Homo sapiens: one gene and its partner. The protein of the gene in region 1 interacts with the protein of each later gene in a pairwise test. Each region holds a gene or a part of one and is shown in the gene's direction. Other genes may lie near its edges.

Evidence for each region. Proteins that work in one complex are often made in the same cells at the same time.
Region 2: the proteins of SEC22A (region 1) and LDAF1 interact in binary tests that used the Homo sapiens proteins (3 or more experiments, as listed by UniProt).

What each region holds. Positions count from the first base shown.
Region 1 is NC_000003.12:123,197,988-123,205,001, forward strand, and holds the start of SEC22A (vesicle-trafficking protein SEC22a), read left to right. Parts: upstream 1-3,955; 5' UTR 3,956-3,999; exon of another isoform or gene 4,000-4,147; intron 4,148-5,101; exon of another isoform or gene 5,102-6,826; intron 6,827-7,014. UniProt on the Homo sapiens protein: May be involved in vesicle transport between the ER and the Golgi complex.
Region 2 is NC_000016.10:21,154,169-21,161,673, forward strand, and holds the start of LDAF1 (lipid droplet assembly factor 1), read left to right. Parts: upstream 1-4,505; 5' UTR 4,506-4,578; intron 4,579-5,156; coding exon of another isoform or gene 5,157-5,273; exon of another isoform or gene 5,274-5,291; intron 5,292-6,809; exon of another isoform or gene 6,810-6,916; 5' UTR 6,917-7,014; coding exon 7,015-7,110; intron 7,111-7,505. Other genes in the region: DNAH3 (dynein axonemal heavy chain 3), read right to left, coding at 5,157-5,273. UniProt on the Homo sapiens protein: Plays an important role in the formation of lipid droplets (LD) which are storage organelles at the center of lipid and energy homeostasis. In association with BSCL2/seipin, defines the sites of LD formation in the endoplasmic reticulum.

The sequences.
Region 1 (7,014 bases):
GTGCTGGGAATACAGGTGTGAGCCACTGTGCCTGGCCTAGTTTATTTTCTTGAATCTATGGGTTTATATTTTTTATCAAATTTTGGAAAATTTTGGCCATTATTACTTCAAATATTTTGTATCACCTCTCCTTTCTGAGTCTCTGATTATACATGTTAGATAACTTTGTATTAACCATAGGTCACCAAGGCTGTGTTCATTTTATTTTAAACTTTTTTTCGCTCTGCACTTTAATGTAGATAATTATTTTTCACTGTTACTTTGTTTACTGATCTTTTCTTCAGCAGTGTATAATCTGCTGTTAAGCCCATAGAGCAAAATTACCAATTCAGATATTGTAGTTTTCTGCTCTAGAAGCTTGATTTGGTTCTTTTTATGGTTTTCATTTATCACATTATTTATGTTTCTTTAAATTCTTGGCCATATTTATAATAGCTTCTTTAAAGTTCTTATCTTACCTGCTTGTAACCCCAGTGCGCTGATGCCCTCTAAAACTTAAAAAAAAAAAAAAAAAAAAATTAAAGAAGAAAAGTGAAGTTCTTATCTGCTTTGAAAACTAATTTCATCATCCTTGTCATTTCTGGGTCTGTTTCTATTGACTGATTCTTCTCCCATTTGTGACTCATGTTTCAATGCTTCTTCACATGTGTAGTAATTTTTTATTGGATACTAGGCATTGCATATATTACATGGTTAAGTACCTGAATTTTGTTGTCTTTCTTTAAAGACTGTTAAGTTTCATTCAAGAAAGCAGTTAATTTACTTGCAAATCAGTTTTTTCAGCTTTGTTCGAGTGGGTTTAGAATAGTCTTTACTATTGGGCTAATTTAGCTTTAAAGTGTGGCCTTTTTAGGGTCTCTTTACCAAATGCTTCAGGTTTTAATAAGATTTAATAAGATTTCCCATTCTAATCAGTCAGAGCCTAAATGTTTCCAAACTCTATTCAAGTTCTTGTAGCTGTTCAGCTTAAATTTCCCCAGTAATTGTTATTTACCAGCCTCATACAATCTATCCTTAAAGTTATACCAAAGATTCACAGGAATCCTTATGTATATTTCTGGAGCTCTTTCTCTGGCACCCTGCCCCACAAATATCATTTGTCTCAATCTCTATTAATTCCAATTTCTGTGTCCTCAACAAACCCTGCTTGGCTTTCTTCTATCCTGTGCTTACCTCCAGAAAGAAATCTGTGGATATTCTGGGGACTCATCTTGTTTGTTTTCCTTCCTTCCAAGATCACAACTTTACTATGCCAGTTGTCCAATGCCTGGAAACACTTGTTTCATAGATTTGGTCCAGTTTTCCGTTACTTGTAGTGGAAGGTTTAGTCTGGTATCACTTATTTATTCATGGCTGGATTGCTCTTAACATTTGGAAAAACATAAACTTTCTATTCAATAGTAAAATACATACTGGAAAATTTCATAAATATAGCATACAGCTTGATGAATTTTCTTTTCTTTTTCTTTTCCTTTTTTTTTTTTTTTTGACACAGGGTCTCACTTTGTTGCTCAGGCTGGAGTGCAGTGGCACAAACATGGCTCACTGCAATATTGACCTCCAGGACTCAAGCAATCCTCCCACCTCAGCCCCACAAGTAGCTGAGACTACAGGCGTGCACCACCATGCCTGGCCAATTTTCAGAGAGGGTTTGGCCATGTTGCCCAGGCTGGTCTTGAACTCCTGAGCTCAAGTAATCTGTCTGTCTCGGCCTCCTTGGCCTCCCAAAATGCTGTGTTGGGATTACAGGTGTGAGCAAGCCACCATATCCAGTCCAGTGAATCTTCATTAATTGAAAACACCATGTAATCAACACCTGGATCAATAAGAACATTACTAGATCTCCAGTAGCCCCTTATTGCTCCTTTCTAATTATTAACACTAATAATTATAACTTATTGGTTACCCTTGGGTAACCAATATTTTACTTCTATTACCTTATATGATTTTTTATTTTGAACATTATGTAAATGGAATCATATAGTAATCTTTTTTGTGTCTGACTTATTTCACTCAATTTTTATGATTGTGAAATTCATGCATGCTTTGCATATGGTTGTAGATTATTGTCTTTCCTGTATAGTATTCTACTATGTGAATATTCTTCTTCCTTTTTTTTTTTTTTTTTTTTTGAGAAGGAGTCTTGCTCTGTTGCCTAGGCTGGAGTTCAGCGGCATGATCTTGGCTCACTGCAACCTCTGCCTCCCAGTTTAAGCAATTCTCCTACCTCAGCCTCCCAAGTAGCTGGGATTACAGATGCCTACAACCATGCCTGGCTAATTTTTTTGTATTTTAGTTGAGATGGGGTTTCACCATGTTGGCCAGGCTGGTCTCGAACTCCCAACCTCAAGTGATCCACCCCCGCCCCCGGCCTCCCAAAGTGCTGGGATTACAGGCGTGAGCCATCGCGCCTGGTCAGAATATTCTAAAATTTATTTATTTCATGAACATTCTTATACATATGTTTTCTGGTGAATATATGAATACATTTATGTTGAGTATATATCTAGGACAAAATTTATGTTAGTTCAGGCCTTTCTTCTGAACTCTAGACCTACATATCCAAATCTACTTGACATCTCCATTTATAGGCATTTCAAATTTAACATATTCCAAACCATTTGCTCCTCTTTCTGTGTTCCATGAGTCAGTAAATGGCTTCTTAATCCATCTAGTTACTTAAGGAGTCATCCTTAATATTCCTTTTTGTTGACCCTTCCCGGCAAACCAATCCGTTATGAAGTCCCTTGGATACCATTTCTAATTTATACATATCTTGAAATTATCTACCTCTTTCTGTCTCTAACTCCCATTACACTAGTTCAAGCCCCATCATTTCTGGCTTTGCCTGACGCAACTGCCTCCAAATGGCTTTCCAGCAGCCCTTCTTGCCCTTTTCCACACTATTCTCCACAAACAGCCTGAGTGATTCTTAAATATGCAAATAGGATCCTACTTAATAGTCTTTATTAGCTGCCCATTGACCTTGGGCTGAGATGAGACAAGGGCCAGACCATGCTGACTCTTATTGGCCACATTACAGATTTCAGGCTGTATTTTGGAAGATATCTTAAGGTCAACGGGCAAAGTTTCTCCTTGCTCCCTACACTCCATCCACACTGACTCCCTTTTAGTTCCTAGAGCACAAGAAGTTCTTTCATGCCCCGACAACCTCACACAATATTTCCTTGGCGGGGAACATTCTCTAAGGCTCTTCAATATGCCTGCCGCTTAAAAGGCACTTATTCAGAAGTCTTTTCCCTGATAGTCCAAAATTAATTGATCATTGCACCCACTAATTTTCCCTCCCAATACTGACAATTTGTAGTTCTGTAACTATTTATGCTTTAATATCTCTTGCTCCAATTACTCCTTAAATTCCATCAAGTGTTATGTCCACTCCTGTAACCCCGTGCTTAACACGGTGCTTGGCACATGGTAAACAGTCAGGAAATGCCTGTTTAATAATGCATGACCGATGCGAAGGCTGGAAGGGGTCGCAGGGTCAGCATCTGGCACTTCTCTGCCATGGTTAGTTTCCTTCTTGTGTGTGGGAATAGACGGGGCCAGGTCTTCTCCTTGCTCACCCAGAGGGGGCTTTTCTCCCTGTCCCCTTTATAAGTGTCTGCTGTAGGGCCGCGTGTGAGAGACAAAATGCCTGCAGAAACAGGGCGGCGAGCGGAAGAGATTGGCCCTATTTCTGAAGTCAACGTAGTTCTGTCATCAGAGGATGCTGTACTTTTCTGGCGCAGGTGCGAGAGAAGCTGCCAATCTCTCCTGGAGCGGGTGGGACTAAGGAGGGCCCCGGGAGCTGGGGGGTTGTTGTGTCCTTCCTGCAGAACCCGATTGGCCTGGGTGAGCTGAGGGAACGGGGGCGTGGTTTGATTCCGCGGGCGCGAGCCACGTTGGACGCGCCGCAGCGTCGCCGAAAGGTCCCTCCCAGGCCCCACAATGCACTTCGGGGCGCGTCACTCGGAGCGGCGGGTCCCGTCTCGACAGGTACTCCCCGGCCCCTCCCAGTCCTCTTCTTCCTTTCTTAGGGGTCGTTCGAATCCCTGCCGGCCTCTCCCCTCCCGCTCCCTGCCTCTCGCCACAGCCTCGGCCTTCGCCCTCGGGATTGAAGACCTACCCCACGGGCAGGAGCCAAGTCCGTGCCTTTGGGATGGGAGTCGGGGCCGCGGAGCTCTGGAGGGACGGGCAAGCGGGGACCCCGTCCCCTTCGACTTGAGGGTTCTCTGGGGCCAGGCGGGCGGCGGTTGCGCCTCGTCTGAGCCGCCTCGGGTGTTGGGCAGCCAGGAAAGGAGTGTTTGAAGGGGAGGGACAGTCGCACTTGGCTGTCAGCATGGTGGTGGGGATTCCCTGGCGCCCAGGTGTCAGAAACACGGTGATCTACCTGTGTAGGTGGCCCATGAGAGCTTGAGGTGGCATTTCCTATTTCTTTTAGGCAGAATGGGACTTGAACCAGTGTCTTACTTTACGTTTTGTGGGGATGGAGTGAGCCCTGAGCCCAGATATTTGCCCGCGTTGGCTCACGGAAATCTCTTGAGACCCTGTCTCAAGAGTCACTTTGGGAACGATGTGGCAGAAGGGAGACCTGAGCAATTGGCTCGGCAAGTGGAGGAGGCTTCCAAAAGAAAAGGACAAGCCCCAGCTGGCTTGAATCTCTCTGCCAGTGAAGACAGCTTAAGATAATTTTTCCCTGCTGCTTAGTTTCCTGGATCATCCACCTGGGGCAGGGGGCGAGCTTGAGAACCAGTCCCTCCTATGCCTATTCAGCCAAGGCAAAGCCTAGCCCAGAGCAAAAGTATCAGCCACCAGACTGGAGATGTTGGGATCTTCAGTCAGGGGAACAGCCACTTTTCAAACTCTGAATCACTTTCCATGTTACTGATATTTGCTTACATGCTAAGATTGTAAGGAATCAGGCAATGCCTTAAACGGTACCTACAATTTCTGATATATTAAGGTTCATTCAGTATTTGACTCTGACACCTGTGACCATATCCTAAAGTAATGGGACATTCGGGTATTTCCTATGTTGAAAACCATCACATCTGTTTAGTGCCTTTTTTTTTTTTTTTTTTTTTTTTTTTTTTTTTTGCGTGCAACTGGTTAAAATCGAAGTATATCTTATGTTGGTATATGAAAGAGGCCTAGGTCTTATCACAGGGGTGCCTGTGACCTTCCTTGAGTGTCTCACAGAGTTGTTAGAATTGGGCCTGAGTTTAAATCCCTACTTTGTCACCTACTCGTTTAGGGATTAAAAAAAATTCCTCAAGCTTTCTGGGCTTGAATTTCCTCAAAGGTAAAATGGAACTAATAATACCTATCTCACAGGTTTTTGGAACGCTTAAATGAGGTAATGTGTATAAAGTGCGTGGTCCATGGAGAGTAATCAATAAATAATACAGCAAATATTTAATGTAGTGCTTTTAGCATGTTACAAGGCAATGTTTCAGGCACTTTACATGATCCTATGAGATAGATACTATTGTCATCTTTAAAACAAGCCTATGAGATAGATGCTATTAGTAGCCACAATATATAGATGTGGAAATTGAGATATAGAAAGGCAAAGCTTGTCCAAATTTACATGGCTGGTAGATGGTGGAGCCAGGATTAGAACCCAGGCAGCAAGTGAATAGATAGTTTCTATATCCCTGGTTTCTTGTGTCTTGTTGGTTTTGGGAGACTGATGAAGCATAGTGATGTAGAGATACTAGAAACTTAGACCGAAGTACCAGTTCTGCTATATACTAGCAGTGTGACATTGAGAAAGTGAGCCTTAGTTTCCTCATCTGTAAAATGGTGGTTTTACCTACCCAACCGTGAACTATGTGGCACTATAAAAATGTTGGGATTGACACATTTGAGCATGTATTGGGGGCCCTGTCCTAGATGTGGGTAAAATCTGTTGTGAAGCCTGAGGTCTTATACATACTGTGCAGTGCAAGCACCCATAATAGGAATGTCGAACACTGCTAGTGAGGTAGAAGGCATAGGCAAAATGGCGGAAATTCCATCCCCTTTATCACCCACTCTATCCCCCACCCTCAGCGAGCACTTTTAATAAAATAATATGTACCATATTGGTATTGTTTCCCAAACTTTGGTACTGTCACATATGCAAGATAATTTGATAAGCAAATGAACATTAAAAAATTCTCCCCAAATTTTCACACACATACATATTTGAATGAAACAAGTTCATTTAATTTAAATTAGGAGAAAAACTTAACATCTCAAAACTGATTTCACAGATATTATTGCTAAAAAATAAAGGACAAGAAAAGTAAGTCAATTCAAAGACCAATATTAGGTAAATAGTACAGGTGGATGAAGATAATTCTGAAAGTGGTACTTGGATGACTGAAGACTGGGAAGTTATGAACTAAAATAAATATGAGTGCTTTTGCCCCCAGTATAAAATGTTTTTATCTTAAAAGTGGCATTTGTGAAAGCATTTGGTTAGAACGTATATACAAAATCCACTTACATGTTGGGCTTTGTTTATTACCTTTTGAGAGATAACTTCCTGAGACATTGAGCCTGTAGTCATTACCCCTACAAGGTTCTGAAGAAGAGGGGTGTCTTATTATCTTGGGTCCAGGAACTTGCTAACCACTACTATAGTAGTTTGGCATTGTGGGAATTTATTTTCCTCAGCCTTTACATAAAAGTTTACCCAGATTTACCTAGATTCTAGCTTGTGCTTTTTCCTCCAACAGTTGCTGATGGGGAGAGGAAAAAATAGCCACTATTCAGGTTCCCTGTGAGTTAACTGCTGCTGTACAAAGGCAGGTGTAATATTTTCTCTGTATTAAAGGTGAGGAGAAATGGCCCAGTGCCCTAAACATTTATCTATGGCCCCGATAAGCTAAAAACTCCTAAATCTTCCCATGCAATTGTTGTAATCTCTTGCTTTCCACAGTTCCACTGGTTCTTCCTTGGGATTTTCCCAACCACAACCCTCCTTAAGACCTTAAAGATACTTTAACCTAGCTTAGGCCTGAC
Region 2 (7,505 bases), on another chromosome or scaffold:
CAAGGCGAGTGGATCGCCTGAGGTCAGGGGTTCAAGACCAACCTGGCCAACATGGTGAAACCCCGTCTCTACTAAAAATACAAAAAATTAGCCGGGCGTGGTGGCAGGCACCAGTAATCCCAGCTTCTTGGGTTGCTGAGGCAGGAGAATTGCATGAACACAGGAGGTGGAGGTTGCAGTAAGCTGAGATCACACCATTGCACTCCAGCCTGTGTGACACAGCGAGACTCTGTCTCAAAAAAAAAAAAATTAGAATGGTCCTGATGTGGAGCTAATGGACCCTATGGCCTGTGTGTGAGTAGGAGGTATGCTACCATCTGAAATTTAGTGTGTTTTAAGTCTACTAGTGTTTAAAACTATCAAAACAATACTAATGGCTTTCGCTTATTGAGCATATACTATGCCCTGGGACTGCTGCTAGGCACTTAGTAGACATCATGTCTTTGAATCTTCTCAACAACCTAGAATATAAATATCAGTATTTTCACAAGTTTTATGATTGAGGAAACTGATACATTAAACTAACCTGCCCATAGTCACACAGCTAGGTCATCAGGAAAGCTTGAACTTGGTTATGAAATCTGTTCCATGGCTTCAACCGAAAACCTACATGTAATCTGAGGAAAGGTGGAAAATAAAGTATCTGCCAAAGAGAGTGAAAGTGACTTCCCCCAGGCCACCTCACCTGTACCAGAATTGTTTGTTGTCTGACAACTTTGTGTTGGATAATTCTTAAGAAAGGATATAGGCTTCAAGTTTCTCAATCTTCTTTTTCTTTCTTTCTTTTTTTTTTTTTTTTGAGATGGAATCTTGCTCTGTTGCCCAGGCTGGAGTGCAGTGGTATGATCTCGGCTCACTGTAACCTCCACCTCCTGGGTTCAAGTGATTCTCTTGCCTCAGCCTCCCCAGTAACTGGGATTACAGGCGTGTGCTAACACACCTGGCTTATTTTTGTATTTTTAGTAGAGATGGGGTTTTGCCATGTTGGCCAGCCTGGTCTCGAACCCCTGACCTCAAGTGATCTGCCCACCTCCGCCTCCCAAAGTGCTGGGATTCAGGCATGAGCCACCATGCCCGGCCTTGTTTCTCAATTGGGCTGCCAGACAAAACAGAAGGTGCCCAGTTAAATTAGAGTTTCAGTCAAACAATTTTTCAGGTAAAAGAATGTTTTAGGGCCGGGAGCAGTGGCTCATGCCTGTAATCCCAACACTTTGGAAGGCCGAGGCAGGCGGATCACAAAGTCAGGAGTTTGAGACCAGCCTGACCAACATGGTGAAACCCTGTCTCTACTAAAAATACAAAAATTAGCTGGGCGTGGCGGCACATGCCTGTAATCCCAGCTACTCCGGAGGCTTTGGCAGGAGAATCATTTGAACCCAGGAGGTGGAGGTTGCAGTAAGCCGAGATAGCGCCACTGCACTCCAGCCTGGGAGACAGAGCAAGACTCCGTCTCAAAAAAAAAAAAAAAAAAAAAAAGTTTTAGTATAAGCATGTCCCATTCAATACATGGGCTGTACTTGTACTTGTACTAAAAAGTTACCCATTATTTACCTGAAATTCAGATTTAATTGAGTGTCGTGTGTTTTTATTTGCCAAATCTGCCAACATGGGGAGCAGAGGTCAGCAAGGTTCCAAGTTGCCCCTGCCTCTTGTTATCAAGAGTTTAGGGTCTTAATCTGTTGCTAAAAAAATTTCACACATTTCTTATTCAGAGGCTGGTATTCCTGGCAGCTCATTCCTGAGGCCTAAAATAGTTGTTTAAGCAGAGCAACAGTTTCAATCCTTGGAGGCTACTATAGCAAAGTACCAAAGTCTGGGTGGCTTATAAACAAGAGACATTTATTTCTCACTGCTCTGAAGGCTGGAAGTTCACAATCAGGGTGCCAGGGTGGTCTGGTTCCAGTGAAGGCCCCCTTCCATGTTGCAGGCTGCCAACTTCTCATTGTATCCTCACATGGTGGAAAGAGGGTAAGAGAGCTCTCTGGGAGTTATTCTTATTTTATTTTATTTTATTTTATTTTATTTTATTTTATTTATTTTATTTTATTTTATTTTATTATTTTATTTTATTTTATTTTAATGAGCCAGGGTCTCACTTTGTTGCCCAGGCTAGAGTGCAGTGGTGCAATCTCAGCTCACTGCAGCCTCCACTGCCTGGGCTCAAGAGATCCTCCTGCCTCAGCCTCCCATGTAGCTGGGACTACAGGCATGTGCCACTATGCCCGGCTAACTTTTGTATTTTTAGTAGAGAAGAGGTTTCGCCATGTTGCCCAGGCTGGTCTCGAACTCCTAGACTCAAGCAATCCACCCACCTTGGCCTCCCAAAGTGGTGGGATTATAGGTGTGAGCCACTGGGATCTCTTTTATAAGGGCACTAATCCCATTTAGGAGGGCTTCACCTTCATGACCTAATCACCTCCCAAAAACCCCATGCCTAATCCCATCACATTGGGGGTTAGGATTTTAGAGGAACAGACATTCAGTCCATTGCAGCAAGTAATTGGGAAAGCATAGGAGAGGCTGCGCGTGGATTTTTTTAACCCAACCACTGCATGTTCCTTGAGGGCCAAGTCCTGATGCTATGGAGAGATGCTAGGATCCCAGCCCTGGAGGAACACATGATGTGATGGAGGAAGCATCTATCACACAAAGACAAGCAAAACTCTGCTGGCCCAGCCAAAAATGCCAGAGGTGGAAGGAATTTGAAGATTCACAGAGACGCCCCTAGATGGCACTCTTAAACAAAAATCCCAGTGGAAACCCTAACTCAGCTTTCCAAAGCAACTTCCATTTAGGGAATGATGATTGGAAGGCTGTAATCTAAGGAAACACACACACACACACACACACACACACAATCTTTTCCTGGGTGGGGAACCCAGCATTTTGCAGCTGAACAAAGTGCATGACGCCAGACAAGATTGGCTAAAACTTAAGAATTTAGGGATTCTTGTCTGTCCTATCCCCACCATTAGCTCTTCTTTCTGCTATTGTGGAATTACAGCAGGATTCTGTGGTTTATCATATCATTGTCGTGATCATCATCATAAATCATCATCCCAAGCAAATATTTTTGAGCCCCTACTCTGTGCCTCAATAGGTGCTAAGTTCTCGACAGCCACAGCCACACTATTGCACCAGTCCTCACTACAACCCTGTGATTGCTTCTTTTTTTTTTTTTTTTTTTTTGAGACAGGGTCTCACTCTGTTGCCCAGGCTGGAGTGCAGTGTCTTCACTGCAACTTCTACTTCCCAGGTTCAAGCGATACTTCTGCCTCAGCCTCCCGAGTAGCTGGGATTACAGGTGCGCACCACCATGCCTGGCTAGTTTTTATATTTTTAGTAGAGATGGGGTTTCACCATGTTGGCCAGGCTGGTCTGGAACTCCTGGCCTCAAGTGATCTGCCCACCTCAGCCTCCCAAAGTGCTGGGATTATAGGTGTGAGCCACCGCACCCTGCCAGCTTTTTGTTATCTAAAGACTTATTTTCCAGGTTGCTATGGCCACAGGCAAAGAGGAGAGGTCGGTCAACACAGGTCCCTGTCTGGAAAGTGGCTGAGAACTGTGCAACAGCAGACCAATGGTTGGGCTTATCCCTCTCTCTAATTTATGGTTGAAGCCATGGTTCAGAGAGGTTACTTAGTCACACAGTAAGTTGCCATCATGCTCTATAGCAGTGGTTCTCACCTCGGGACGATGGGGCCTTCCAGGGGACATTTGGCAATATTTTGAGACACAACTGGAGGTGGGGGGGGGCGGTTCTTGTAACTGGCATCTAATGGGTAGAGGCTAGGATATTGCTAAACATTCTACAATCCACAGCTCAGAAACAGAATTATTCCGCCCCAAATGTCAATAGCATACTATTCAGAAACCTTACTCTATAGGGCAGATTTGGGGCCAGGGGAAACAGGGGCTCCTGCTCCGACTTGGATCCATGCAAACCGAGGAATTTGGATTGATTTATCTTGTCTCTCTCAGCCTGGACTTTTTCATGTGTAAAATGGACATCCAATCCATCTGAAAGGATCTCACTGGCTTATGACATTCGCATTTGAGCAGTCATGGTTAAAAACTTCCAGCCAGGGTGATACTTCATCACGTGTGTGTCTTGAGCGCCAGAGACGTTCCAGAGCAGCTGGTTTTAGGCATACAGGAGGGGAAACCCTGACACCCTTGGAAAACTCATTCTCGGCTGCCAGTCTGCCTGTCTTGAAGGTGGTCTGAGCTTTCTCACTCCAAGCCAGTCGTGTGGGAAGGGACACTCTCTGAGCCTCAGTTTCCTCAGCTGTCAACCTCTCAGGGCTTGTTCTAGTGGCTCCGAAAGCCAGTGGGAGCGAGCGCGCTTTGCAAAGCCTTGGGCGCCGGGCCTTGGCGCGCCTTTGCCGGATCCTTCCGGCCACGGGCGGGGCGAGCCCAGAGGAGAAGAGCCGAGGGGCGGTGCCCGGGCCAGGGGGCGGAGGCAGGCGGCTCTGGCTCCCTCTCGGGACGCTCTTTCCTTCTTCCTCTTGTTCCTCCTCCTGCCTCTCTTCGCTTCGCCTGCAAACGCGGTGGGGGCTGCTCGGCGGTCAGGAGCAGGTGAGAGCTCGGAGCTTGGGGGTGGGGGTCCGGGTGCCCCGGGTGGCTAGACCCCTCTCGCCGGGCGGGGACAGAGGAGGAGCGCGGGGGCGACGGCGTGAGCGCGCTATCGGGGTCCCACGCCCGTAGCTTTCTGCCCCGGGGTTAGTGTAAGGGGCGTCTCCTGCTTATGAGTCGCCGGGACGGGGCTGGGAGCGCACGAGGAGACACGATTCCTCCCCACCCCTAAATGCACACTCACCCCGCCACCCCCCAACACACACACACATACACACACACACTACCACTAGATTAGGTAAAATGGTAGCTAGCACCACCACACCCCGAGACTGTGCCCCTTTCTGGGGAACCTGGGGAAGACGTCGAGGCAAACCTCCCTAGGATTATTGAAAACGGGCGCCTTCCTCACCACCCAGCCCCTCTTCTCCACCGAGGTCCCCTTCCCCATCGCTGCAGAGAGATCTGCAAGTATCAAAGGGGGCTTCTTTACCCCCAAATTAATAACTAAGTACTCGACTCCCCTCTGAGTTCCCATTATTCAGTCTCTGTGCCTTCTGGGACGCGGACCCCCTCTCCACCTGCATTTCACTCCCTTCCTCCTCTCCTTGGGTCTCCCTGGCTTTTGAACGCTGAAAGGCTGGGCCCGGATGGGGAGGGGCGGCCAGTGTGAGCTCGAGGCGCCCTGTAGCTCCCATCCCCCAACCAGAGATGTGACCCCTCCTCCCAGCTTGAACTTTCGAGGTAGCCGTTTTCCCCTGGAGGTTCGGGGGTGGGAGGGCCAGGAGATTTATTTGGAGCCTTGGAAGGGGAAAGGGTTAGCTGGTGTTGGCCTGGCCCAGTCCCCCAGGCGTGAAGAAGGCGGGGCACTCCTTGGCCGCGCCGGGTTCTCGCTTTCCCTTCTCGGGAGACAGCTCCGTGCCTGGGGAGGCCCCTCCGAGGAGTGAGTGACCAGGGGGTCTGGGAATTGGTGGCCAGGTAGACGCATTTGAAGGCTGTGGCCGATGGCATTCGCCCCACGCACTCTCTCATCGGACTCCCCAAACCGGTCTGGGTGGCACTTGAGGCTCCCAGGCCAAAGGAGACCTGTAAGGGGAACTCCGCTTGTTTCTGCTTGCTGCAGAGATGAGATTATGGGAACTGAGTGCTGGGAACATCCCAAGTTCAAGACCTACGCCAGAGGCAGCTTCAAAGAGAGAATGTGGGGTGGTGGGATTAGTCCCCTCCTCAACTTTCCCCTCCAAAGGGTTTCTTGTTTTACAAAAGGGAAGTAGCAGAGGATGTCTAGCTGGGATGATTAAAATGTGCTTTAATTTGCATACTAGACCCTGTACAGCTTAGTAGTAGATAAAATTACCCCCTATATGATAAATAAATGTGAGGATCTCTCAATTAATTTTGGCCACGTGGACACAATCTTTTAAGCATTTGTACTGTAGGTCAGGTCAGTTTAAAGGGAGAAATGGAAAAGATATCTCTGTGTCCAGCCAGTTCTGGGAAATATAAAATAAGAATGATTTTTTTTTTATATTTGAAAACTCAACAAGGGTTAAAAAATATATCTAATTTAACCAATTGCCTTTATTAAAAATAAGTAAAAATTGTATGAGATTGGGACACCCCTCAAAATTCCAGGCAGTTTAGTTAGAGTATAATTACTGTGGTGAGGTCTGCCCCCGAGGTGCAGTTCTCCTTAGCAGGGATAGACTTACCCACAAGTAAGTAGATGATGATGTATGGAATGATGGAATTGGGAGCCAACCTGTACAGTAATAAAGAAGAGAAACAGGTCAAGGCTACTGTTGTACAAGGAAAGCTTTCTAGGGAGAATAAAAGGCAATGAGATTTGAAATAGTGTGTTCAGCTTTCTTGCTTTCTGTATATTTTCAGCATTTTGTCAAGCTAAAAAATAAACATAAGCTGTCAGAGATAATACTATTAACATTTTATCATCTTTTTTTAAAAGTATCATACACATCTTTTCACATCACTAAACAGTCACACTATCATTTTAATGACTGAATTTATCATTATTTAACCAATTTTCTCCTAATGGAAATACAGTTAGCTACTTTCCAATGTTTTGCTAGTCATTATATGTTATAAACAGGGATGCAATGCACAGCCTTTTAGTACATTTTGAGATACCTGTTGGATTATTTCCATCATGTTCCTGGAATATAAATTCCTGGATTGAAGTGTGTGCAATCTGAAATTGTTGTGAATATTGCCAGGTTACCCTCCGTCTGCATGCCCACCATCAAGGTATGAGGATGGTAGAAGCTCTCGTCGAACCAGATGGATGAAGACCACTAACGGCTTTTGTTTCCTCTGGTAACAGCAAGAGACAGAGCGACATGAGAGATTGGACCGCGGGCTGCACTGGAGAATTTACTGGTAGGATAATTCATCCCTAAAGAGATTGAAGTGAGCTTCAGAATGGCAAAAGAGGAGCCCCAGAGTATCTCAAGGGACTTGCAGGAACTGCAGAAGAAGCTGTCTCTGCTGATAGACTCCTTCCAGAATAACTCAAAGGTCAGTTTCCAATCACTATGTATAATGGAAAATCCCAATATAACACTAGCATAAACAAGATAGAAAGTTATTTCTTTCTCCAGTAGAAGGAATTTGGAGGTAAGTCAAGAATCTTTCTGGCTTACCGCCCTGCCATGTCTATGCTGTGACCTTCAAACTCCTTGTCTGAGATGACTGCAAGAGCATCAGCCATTGTATCCATCTTTCAGGCAACAGGATTTGAGGAGGGGGGAAGAGAGAAGTGCAAGCCACCTACAATTTAAGGAGACTTCTGGGAGTCGCACACAATACTTCCAATTACATCCCTTAAGCCAACATTGAGTCATTTGCCACTAATGGCAAATGCAATTCTTTAGCTGGATAAAGAAGTCTGTGCAACAGATATCATCCTTTTT